2 linked regions of the Homo sapiens genome follow. The protein of the gene in region 1 purifies or fractionates together with the protein of each later gene. This does not show direct contact. Each region holds a gene or a part of one and is shown in the gene's direction. Other genes may lie near its edges.

Evidence for each region. Proteins that work in one complex are often made in the same cells at the same time.
Region 2: the proteins of DIMT1 (region 1) and MTPAP purify together in Homo sapiens (affinity purification with mass spectrometry, with the first as the bait; one large-scale study listed by BioGRID). This does not show direct contact.

The regions. Positions count from the first base shown.
Region 1 is NC_000005.10:62,396,406-62,401,647, reverse strand, and holds part of DIMT1 (dimethyladenosine transferase), read left to right. Parts: intron 1-2,766; coding exon 2,767-2,828; intron 2,829-2,908; coding exon 2,909-3,002; intron 3,003-3,087; coding exon 3,088-3,137; exon of another isoform or gene 3,138-3,219; intron 3,220-5,242. UniProt on the Homo sapiens protein: Specifically dimethylates two adjacent adenosines in the loop of a conserved hairpin near the 3'-end of 18S rRNA in the 40S particle.
Region 2 is NC_000010.11:30,331,746-30,336,987, reverse strand, and holds part of MTPAP (poly(A) RNA polymerase, mitochondrial precursor), read left to right. Parts: coding exon 1-185; intron 186-5,242. UniProt on the Homo sapiens protein: Polymerase that creates the 3' poly(A) tail of mitochondrial transcripts. Can use all four nucleotides, but has higher activity with ATP and UTP (in vitro). Plays a role in replication-dependent histone mRNA degradation.

The DNA.
Region 1 (5,242 bases):
TTGCACCACTGCACTCCAGCCTGGTGACAGAGTGAGACTCTGTCTCAAAAAAAAAAAAAAAAAAAAAGGAAAATATGAGATATTTCAGTGAGGAAAACAGAAACCACATTAGGTATTTCAACAGGGAATTTTTTTTTTTTTTTTTTTTTTTTGGAGAGGGAATTTCACACTGTTCCCCAGGCTGGAGTGCAGAGATGCAGTCCTGGCTCACAGCAACCTCTGCCTCCTGGGTTCAAGAGATTCTCCTGCCTCAGCCTCCCCAGTAGCTGAGATTATAGGCACCTGCCCCCACACCAGCTAATTTTTGTATTTTTAGTAGAGATGCGGTTTCACCATGTTGGCCACACTGGTCTTAAACTCCTGACCTCAGGTGATCCGCCAACTTTGGCTTCCCAAAGTGCTGGGATTACAGGCATGAACCACCATGCCCAGCCTCAACAGGGAGTTTAATTAGGAAGGAAATACCCAACGCCTCCCCTTTGTACCCTATAATGCTGGTGCCTTTCACTGGCCAATTCCAACCAGAAGTTGAAAGGTAAGGGAGCTGAACTGCATTATCTGTAGGATGCAGAGAAAAGCGGATAATAGATCTGGGAGGGCCTTTCATGGTGGCTCACACCTGTAATCCCAGCACTTTGGGAGGCTAAGGCGGGTGGATGGCTTGAGCCTAGGAGTTGAAGACCAGCCTGGGCAACATGGTGAAACCCCATCTCTACAAAAAATTGGCTGGGCATGGTGGTGCCTGACTGTAGCCCTGGCTAGCAGGGAGGCTGAGGTGGGAGGTTTACCTGAGCCTGGGAAGTTGAGGCTCCAGTGAGCCATGATCCTGCCACTTCACTACAGCCTGGGTGACACAGTGAGACCCTGTCTCAAAAAATAAAAATAAAACTAAAGATAGATCTGGGAGCCAAACAGAGTAAGAAACACATTGTTTACCATGTAAACAGGGTCTATATAGAAGTAGGGCCAGGAGCTGTGGCCCACATCTGTAATCCCAGCACTTTGGGAGGCTGAGGCAGGAAGATTGCTTAAAGCTATGAGCTTGAGACCAGCCTGGGCAACAAAGCGAGACCCAATCTCTATAAAAAATAAAAAGGCTGGGCATGGTGCCTCCCGCCTATAATCCCAGCACTTTGGGAGGCCAAGGTGGGAGGATTGTTTGAGCCCAGGAGTTTTGAGACCAGCCCGGGCAACATAGAGAGACCCGTCTCTATTAAAAATAAAGAAAGGAAATTAGCCTGGTGTGCTGGTACACACCTGTGGTCCCAGCTGCACAGGAAGGTGAGGTGGGAGGATCCCATGAGCCCAAGACTTCGAGGCAGCAGTGAGCTATGATAGCGCCACTTCACTCCAGCCTGGGCAACAGAGTGAGACCCCATCTCTTAAAAAAAATTATTTTTTAATAAAAATAAAGTCAGTGAAACCTCAGCTGAAATTGCAATAAAATTTCAATTTCGGCCTTATTTGACATCCATTTTCATTTACTTGAGAAGTTATCTATGCCATGTATTGTGTATCTCAGTAGATGTGACATACTAACAGTAAGAGCAATTGCATTGTACGCTCTTCTCTAACAACACTGACTGCAGAGACATGTAGTGTATTTTTTTCATCATCTGTTGAATTACAAAGCATGGAGACAGATGAAACATGATTCTATTGATTATATGAGTAGAACTCTCACATAATCTGGTTGTCTACTTTTCTGGGTGGTGGTGTTTGTTTGTTTGTTTGTTTGTTTTTGAGATGGAGTCTCGCTCTGTTGCCAGGCTGGAGTGCTGTGGCGCGATCTCGGCTCACTGCAACCTCTGACTCCCTGGTTCAAACAATTCTCCTGCTTCAGCCTCCTGAGTAGCTGGGATTACAGGCACGTGCCGCCACGCCCAGATAATTTTTGAATTTGTTAGTAGAGACAGAGTTTTACCATGTTGGCCAGGCTGGTCTCAGTCTCCTGAACTCATGATCCGCCCACCTCAGCCTCACACCCGGCTTTTTTTTTTTTTTGAGATGGAGTCTCACTTTGTCACCCAGGCTGGAATGCAGTGGCACAGTCTTGGCTCATGGCAACCTCCGCCTCCAGGGTTCAAGCAATTCTCCTGCCTCAGCCTCCTGAGTAGCTGGGATTACAGGCGCCCACCACTAGGCCCAGCTAATATTTTGTGTTGTTTTTGTTTTTGTTTTGAGACAAGAGTCTCTGTCTCTTGCCCAAGCTGGAGTGCAATGGTGCGATCTCGACTCACTGCAACCTCTGCCTCCCAGTTTCAAGCAATTCTCCTGCCTCAGCCTCCCGAGTAGCTGGGATTACAGATGCCCATCACTGTACCCAGCTAAATTTGTATTTTTAGTAGAGACGGGGTTTCGCCATGTTGGCCAGGCTGGTTTCGAACTCCTGACCTCAGGTGATCTGCCTGTCTCAGCCTCCCAAAGTGTTGGGATTACAGGCGTGAGCCACTGCACCTGGCCTAATATTTTGTATTTTTAGTAGAGATGGGGTTTCACCATGTTGGCCAGGCTGGCCTTTAACTCCTGACCTCATGATTCGCCCACCCCAGCCTTCCAAAGTGCTGGGATTACAGGCGTGAGCCACTGCACCCGGCCCATTTTTGTTTGTTGTTTGAAGTATGCGAGTATAATTAAAGGAATATTGATGGTAGAAATGGGAGAAGAAGTTTGTCACATAAATCATGTAAGAGTTCCTGTTGGGATAACAATAAAAGATTTATATTCCATAATTAACCTAAATAATTTTTATTTTTTTTAAATTAGGTTGTTGCTTGTGAACTTGACCCAAGGCTAGTAGCTGAACTTCACAAAAGAGTTCAGGGCACGTGAGTATACATAATAGAATTAAAGTGCATTTCAATCTCATGAAACAACATTCTTTTTACATTTCTTCTTTTCTCATCAGGCCTGTGGCCAGCAAACTTCAAGTACTGGTGGGTGATGTGCTGAAAACAGATTTGCCATTCTTTGATACTTGTGTGGCAAATTTGCCTTATCAGGTATGTCCTCACATTTTCAGGAACATCATACTAACTGTTCCTCTGATGTGTCTTTCCCGGAAATAACTAGTTAATTCTCTTACAGATCTCTTCACCTTTTGTCTTCAAGCTGTTGCTACATCGACCTTTTTTCAGGTTTGTGACAAAAGACTAGAGTTACTGCCAAATTTTGAAAGACTTACAGTTCAGGTGGTGAACATAGCCAAAAATGAGTCAGGTCAGTTGAAAAACTACTGAAGAATTTTTGTAGAAAATGTTGATTTGTATGGAGGTCTTTCTCTCTTTAATTGAGAGGTTATTTGGGGGTAGTGTGCTGGAAGTCCTGCTTCTGAGACCAGACAGCCTTTCCCTATTTTTGAATCTTCCTGCCGTTAAGTCTAGGTTAGAATTTTTATTACCTTATGTCTAGACAATTGCAGTGGTTTCCTAACTGGTCTCTAGTATAAGAGGTCTTCAAAAAGTTCATGGAAAATGTGTATTATGAAAAAAACTTGCATGGATTTCAAAATTTTTTTGCACCAAAATAAACTCTGTACTAACTGAGCAGGATCTAGTGTGAGGCACTGAGAAGGATAAGACATCAGTTTGAAAAGAGCCCCTATCAGAGCAACATGAACTCTGCTAAAATTCAAGTAAGAACAAACATCCAATTTATGGTGAAACCTGGTTGGAAGAATGGTGAAATCATTGATGCTTTACAAAAAGTTTATGGAGTCACACCTGTAATCCCAGCACTTTGGGAGGCCAAGGCAGGCGGATCATGAGGTCAGGAGATCGAGACCATCCTGGCTAACATGGTGAAACCCCACATCTACTAAAAATACAAAAAACTAGCCGGGCGTAGTGGCGGGCGCCTGTAGTCCCAGCCACTCGGGAGGCTGAGGCAGGAGAATGGCGTGAACCCGGGAGGCGGAGCTTGCAGTGAGCCGAGATCGCGCCACTGCACTCCAGCCTTGGCGACTGAGCGAGACTCCGTCTCAAAAAAAAAAAAAAGTTTATGGGGACAATATCCCAAAGAAATCAGCAGTTTACTAATGGATAACTCATTTTAAGAAGGGCTGAGACAATGTTGAAGATGAAGCCTACAGTGGCACACTGGCCATATCAATTTGTGGGAAAACATTCATCTTGTTTGTTCCCTAAGTGACGAGGAACAACATTCAACAGCACAAACAATAGCCAACACCATAGACATCACAGTTGGTTTAGCTTACACAATTCTGACTGCAAAATCAAAGTTAAACAAACTTTGTACTTGATAGATGCCAAAACTGTCATACCCTCTTTTCTGAAAGATTTTATGAAAAAACAAAACAAAAAACATTGTACTCAAATCAGCTGCAGATAAAAGCAGAGCTTCCAGTGGAAATTTTACATAACTGGGATCAAGATCCTGAAACATGGCTGGGTGGAGTGGCTCACACCTATAATCCTAGCACTCTGGGAGGCCGAGGCGGGCAGATCACTTGAGGTCAGGAGACCAGCCTGGCTAACATGGTGAAACCCCATCTCTACTAAAAATAAAAAAATTAGCTGGGCATTGTGGTGGGCACCTATAATCCCAGCTACTCGGGAGGCTGAGGCAGGGGAATCGCTTGAACTCAGGAGGCGGAGGTTGTAGTGAGCCAAGATTGTGCCACTGCACTCCACACTCCAGCCTGGGCAACAGAGCGAGATTGTCAAAAAAGAAAACAAGATCCTGAAACATTTCTTCAAAGAATTACAAAGAATTGTAATGGAGATGAAATATGGCTTTACCAGTGTGATCCTAAAGACAAAGCAGAGTGAAAGTGATGCCTACCAAGAAACGGAGTGGCTCCAGTCAAAGCAAAAGCAGACCAGTCAAGAGCAAAGGTCATAGCAACAGTTTTTTTTTGAATGCTCAGGGCATTTTGCTTGCTGACTTTCTTTAGGACCAAAGAATGAAAACATCTGCTTATTACAAGAGTGTTTTGAGAAAGTTAGCTAAGATGTAGCAGAGTAACTCCTGGGAAAGCTTCCCCAGAGATTCCTCCACCATAATACTTCTACTCCTTCCTCTCATCAGACGAGGGCAATTTTTCGAGAGTTTCAATGGGAAATGGTTAGGTATCCACCTTACAGTCCTGATTGGGCCCCTTCTGACTTCTTTTTATTTTATGAGACAGTCTTGCTCTGGTGCCCGGGCTGGAGAGCAGTGGTATGATCTGCACTCACTGCAGCCTCCACTTCCTGGGCTCAAGCATTCCTCCCACCTCAGC
Region 2 (5,242 bases), on another chromosome or scaffold:
TAACAGAGGAGAACACTAAGCTCCGATATCTCACCTGTTCTCTTATTGAAGACATGGCCGCCGCGTATTTTCCAGACTGCATAGTCAGACCCTTTGGCTCCTCAGTCAACACTTTTGGGAAGTTAGGATGTGATTTGGACATGTTTTTGGATCTAGATGAAACCAGAAACCTCAGCGCTCACAAGGTAAGTCTATTTCTTTTGACCACTATAATCATGTAAAGTTAAGAAAGTATAAAAAGAAAAATCTTTGAACTTAATAAAATAGAACTGTTGATTTCTAAACTTATTAAACATTGTGGTTAAAGAATAAGGTGTATTTGTTATTGATTCTTTGGTGAAGTCTTTCTTTGTATTGTTCTACTATGTGATCATTTTTGTGAATATTCTGTAGATATGCAATCAAATAGTTAATTGTTTTCAAGTGTTCAGAAATTTTTCAGTTAAGTCAAAGTTACCTATTGTGTTATTCAAATTATGTATCTTAACTAATTTTTTCTTTTTAATCTTGTGATCTAGTTACTGAGATGTTTTTACATCTCATGATTCTTGGTTTTGTTAATTTCTCTTTAAAATTCTTTTGATTTTTGTTTTATCCAAAGGCTATATTAGCTACATATAGGTATACGATCATCATATTTCCTTATTAGATTGTTTTATTATTATATCCCTCATACATGCTTTATTCATCTCTATAAATACTTTTTTCTTAAGTTCTATTTTATTTGTTAATATGGCCGCTTGGTAGTTGTCTCACATGTCTTCTGTTTCTTTATTTTCAGCCTTTATATATGTTATTTTAGTTTGGGTGTATCTCTTATAAATAGCAGTATGCTTTTACTCCAGTCTATCAGTCTTTGAGTTCAATATGTTTATTGTTACTGCTGATAATTCTTGGACTAATTTCTCCTGTTTTATTTTTTATTTCCTATTTTCTGTGCTTTTGCTTTTCACTTTCTTTTATTTATTTATTTTTTTTGAGGCTGAGTCTCACTCTGTCGCCCAGCCTGGAGTGCAATGGTGCAATCTCGGCTCACTGCAACCTCCACCTCCCGGGTTCAAGTGATTTCTCCTGCCTCAGCCTCCTGAGTAGCTGGGATTACAGGCGCCTGCTACCATGCCCAGCTGATTTTTGTATTTTAGTAGAGACGGGGTTTTACCTCCTTGGTCAGGCTGGTTTTGAACTCCTGACCTCAGGTGATCCACACCCCTCGGCCTCCTAAAGTGCTGGGATTACAGGCATGGGCCACTTCCCAGCAGCTTTTCACTTTCTTTCTTCCTTTTATTGGATTACTCCTGCTTTATTCCTGCACTTTCCTCCTTACCCTTTTTTTCTCTTTCAAGTTTGGATATTATTTCTTCCATTTATGTTCTCTTTAACACGATGTCTAATGGTAAAATTAACCAGTGTCTCTTCCATCCTCCCAAACAATATAAATGATGTCTTAATTTAATTACAGTGTTGAAAAGGCTATTTATTTTTATTTTTATTTTTTTGTTGGAGATAGAGTCTCTTGCTCTGTTGCCTAGGCTGAAGTACGGTGACGTGATCTAGGCTCACAGCAACTTCCGCCTTCCAAGTTCAAACAATTCTCCTGTCTCAGCCTCCCAAGTAGCTGGGACTGCAGGCAGGGGCCACCATGCCCGGCTAATTTTTTTGTTTTAGTAGAGACAGGGTTTCACGTATTGGTCAGGCTGGTCTTGAACTCCTGACCTCAGGTGATCCATCCACCTCAGCCTCCCAAAAGTGCTGGGATTACAGGCGTGAGTCACCACACGCGGCCAAGGCTATGTGTTTTTATAAAATGTTTAGTTTCTATGGCTGTATCTTTCCTTACATCTTTCAAACTAGTAGTGAACATCAGACTTTATGTGGATGTCCAGTTGATATTTCAAACAATATTTTGAGACAACTTATATTCATCTTCCCACAAATGTTCTTTCTAAGTTCTTACAAAAGTTCTATATGTTTCACATGTTAATTAGTGGCATTTTAGCTTTGCTAACCATTCTTTTAATTCTGCTTCTAAGTTGTTATCTTTTGTATTCATAGTTTCACAGTCCCTTATAAACTCTCACTTAGATTATTGTAACTACATTCTGTTTCCACTTCTTATTCCTTGTGTCATGCCTTGATATTTTAACCTTCAGTCTTTGTTGGAGTTACCTTCACTCACAGTTTGAATTTTCCCACAAAGTTAGAATGCTTCTTTTCTTTAGCATAGTATTGAAATCCTCTGTGTCTTAATTAATTTTAGTCATCATTTCCCATTATATATTGTTACATACCCAATTTTCCAACTACATTGTTTTTATTTTTCTTTTTTTAAGACGGAGCTTCACTCGGTCACCCAGGCTGGAGTGCAGTGGCATGATCTTGGCCCGCTGCAGCCTCTGCCTCCTGGGTTCAAGTGATTCTCCTGCCTCAGCCTCCTGTGTAGCTGGGACTTCAGGCACGCCCCACCACGCCCGGCTAATTTTTGTGTTTTTAATAGAGATGGGATTTCGCCATTTTGGCCAGGCTGGTCTGGAACTCCTGACCTCAGGTGATCCACACACCTTGGCCTCCCGAAGTGCTGGGATTACAGGCTTGAGCCACCATGCCCGGCCCCAACCACATTGTTTAATTACCATTTCCAGTAATAGAAGGCACTTGTAAATATCATAATGATCAAACAGTTGTTCTGTGCCTTCACTCAGGAGTGCACTTTCCCTCCATTCCTCGACTCATTCCTAATGCAGCTTTCAAGGTCTAGTTCTAATTCTACCTTCTTGAAACCGCTCTTGATTTTTTTCTCCACTCCAGCCAAAATTAACCACTCCTTTTTTGTAGTATCTTGCAGGTATTTCTATCTGTCTCCAAATTTCTTCTGTCATGTTTAGTGAGTAGCTGATGTATGTATCTCCCACTATATAATAAACTTGGGCAGATAGGAATCATGTCTGTTCATATACTTATTCCACAGTACTGTGTACTTAATTTGCTCACCATATGCTTATTGAATTGAAGCTAGCCAGGCATAGGAAACAGATAAAAATTAAATGGGTCAGTTTTATTATAATAATAATTATTATTATTACTATTTTGAGATGAGGTCTCACTCTTTTGCCCAGGCTAGAGTGCAGTGGTATGATCTCAGCTCACTGTAACCTCTGCCTCCTGGGCTCAAGCAATTCTCCTGCCTCACCCGTGTGATTGAGACTTCAGGCTTACACTGCTGCTTCCGGCTAATTATTTTAGAGATAGTGTTTCATCATGTTGCCCAGGGTGGTCTCGAACTCCTGAGTTCAGGTGATCCACCCACCTCGGCCTCCCCAAGTGCTACGATTATAGGGATTACAAGCGTAAGCCACCGCATCCGGCCTGGATCAGTTTTATTAAGACTAACATGTACTTGAAAATATATTAAGTTCCTGGCAGTGGCACTTAAATTACATTAGGCTGTCTTAAATAAAGGATTGTAACTGAATAATCAAGGAGCATAACAGTGTGTTGTAATGGTTTAAAAAGCCTGGGCTCTGGCATCAAGCTGCAGAATTTTAATTCTACTTACTAGTAATGTGATCCTAGGTAAGTTATTTACCTTCTCTCTGCCTCAATTGTCCTAACTATAAAATTGGAATGGTGTTATAGCACATATCTCATACAATGTTTGAGAGGATTTATTGAGTTAATATGTGTGAAACATTTAGAACAGTGCTTATGGCACAGAGTAAGTGTTGAAATGTTGACCACCATCAACAGCAATATAATTTTACTCTTATGTAAGTGGGAGGCAAAATTTTTTCTTTGGTGGAAACAGGCAGGAGTTAGAAACTTTCTTCTTTTTTTTAAATTTATTTTTAATTAATTAATTTATTTTTTTTTGAGACAGAGTCTTGCTCTGTCTCCCAGGCTGGAGTGCAGCGGTGCCATCTCGGCTCACTGCAAGCTCCGCCTCCCGGGTTCACACTATTCTCCTGCCTCAGCCTCCCGAGTAGCTGGGACTACAGGCGCCCGCCACCACGCCCAGCTAATTTTTTGTATTTTTAGTAGAGATGGAGTTTCACCGTGTTAGCCAGGATGGTCTCGATCTCCTGACCTCGTGATCTGCCTGCCTCTGCCTCCCAAAGTGCTGGGATTACAGGCATGAGCCACTGCGCCCGGCCATTTTAATTTTTGTTTTCTTATTGACTCGTTGTTTCACCACGGTACCCAGGATAGTCTCGAACACCTGGGCTAACGATCCTCCTGCCTCAGCCTCCCAAAGTGCTGAGATTATAGGTGTGAGCCACTGCACCTGGCCTAGAAACTTTTAGTTGAGTCTTACTCTTAGATTTCTGAGGTATAGAGGTATTTAGAAAAAGATGTTTTAAAGACAGTGCTCCAGTCTTACTAAACAATTAGGCATTTTGGGCCGGGCACAGTGGCTCAAGCCTGTAATCCTACCACTTTGGGAGGCCAAGTCGGGTGGATCACTTGAGGTCAGGAGTTCGAGACCAGCCTGGCCAATGTAGTGAAACCCCGTCTCTACTAAAAATACAAAAATTAGCTGGGCGTGGTGGTGGGAGCCTATAATCCCAGCTACTCAGAAGGCTGAGGCAGGAGAATTGCTTGAACCCGGTGAGGCAGAGGTTGCAGTGAGCCGAGATCACGCCACCTCACTCCAGCCTGGGCGAAATAGCAAGACTCTGTCATACATACACAGAAATAACCAGAACTTGGCATTTCCTGTGTCAGTTTAAATTAGGAAAGTGTTGTTATAAACATACATGTGCTTATTTAAGGATTTTTTGGAAATATGTTTTTGTTCAAGATTATAATAGCTTTGCTAGTAAAAATATTAAAAATAAAATACAATAAAAAATACAAGTACTCTTACATTCATCAGATTCATAAAACCTTCTTTGACTACTTTCTGCATTCATGAGCTCTTCTCTTACCTTTTGTTTCTTTGATATCTTTTCACACTACACCTTGCTTTATAATTCTTTGTGTGTGTGTTTTATTCCTCAACTCAATCTGAGAGGAGTTAGGAAGAGTGTGTTAGACTTTTTTGCATGTCTTATGGCACTATGTATGATATCCCATGCACGATAGGGACTAAAATTATTTGCTAATGAATGAATAAAAGTTACTTACAGCTAGGCGTGGTGGCTCACGCCTGTAATCCCAGCACTTTGGGAGGCCAAGGTGGGCGGATCACCTGAGGTCAGGAGTTCAAGGCCAGCCTGGCCAATGTGGTGAAACCCCGTCTCTACAA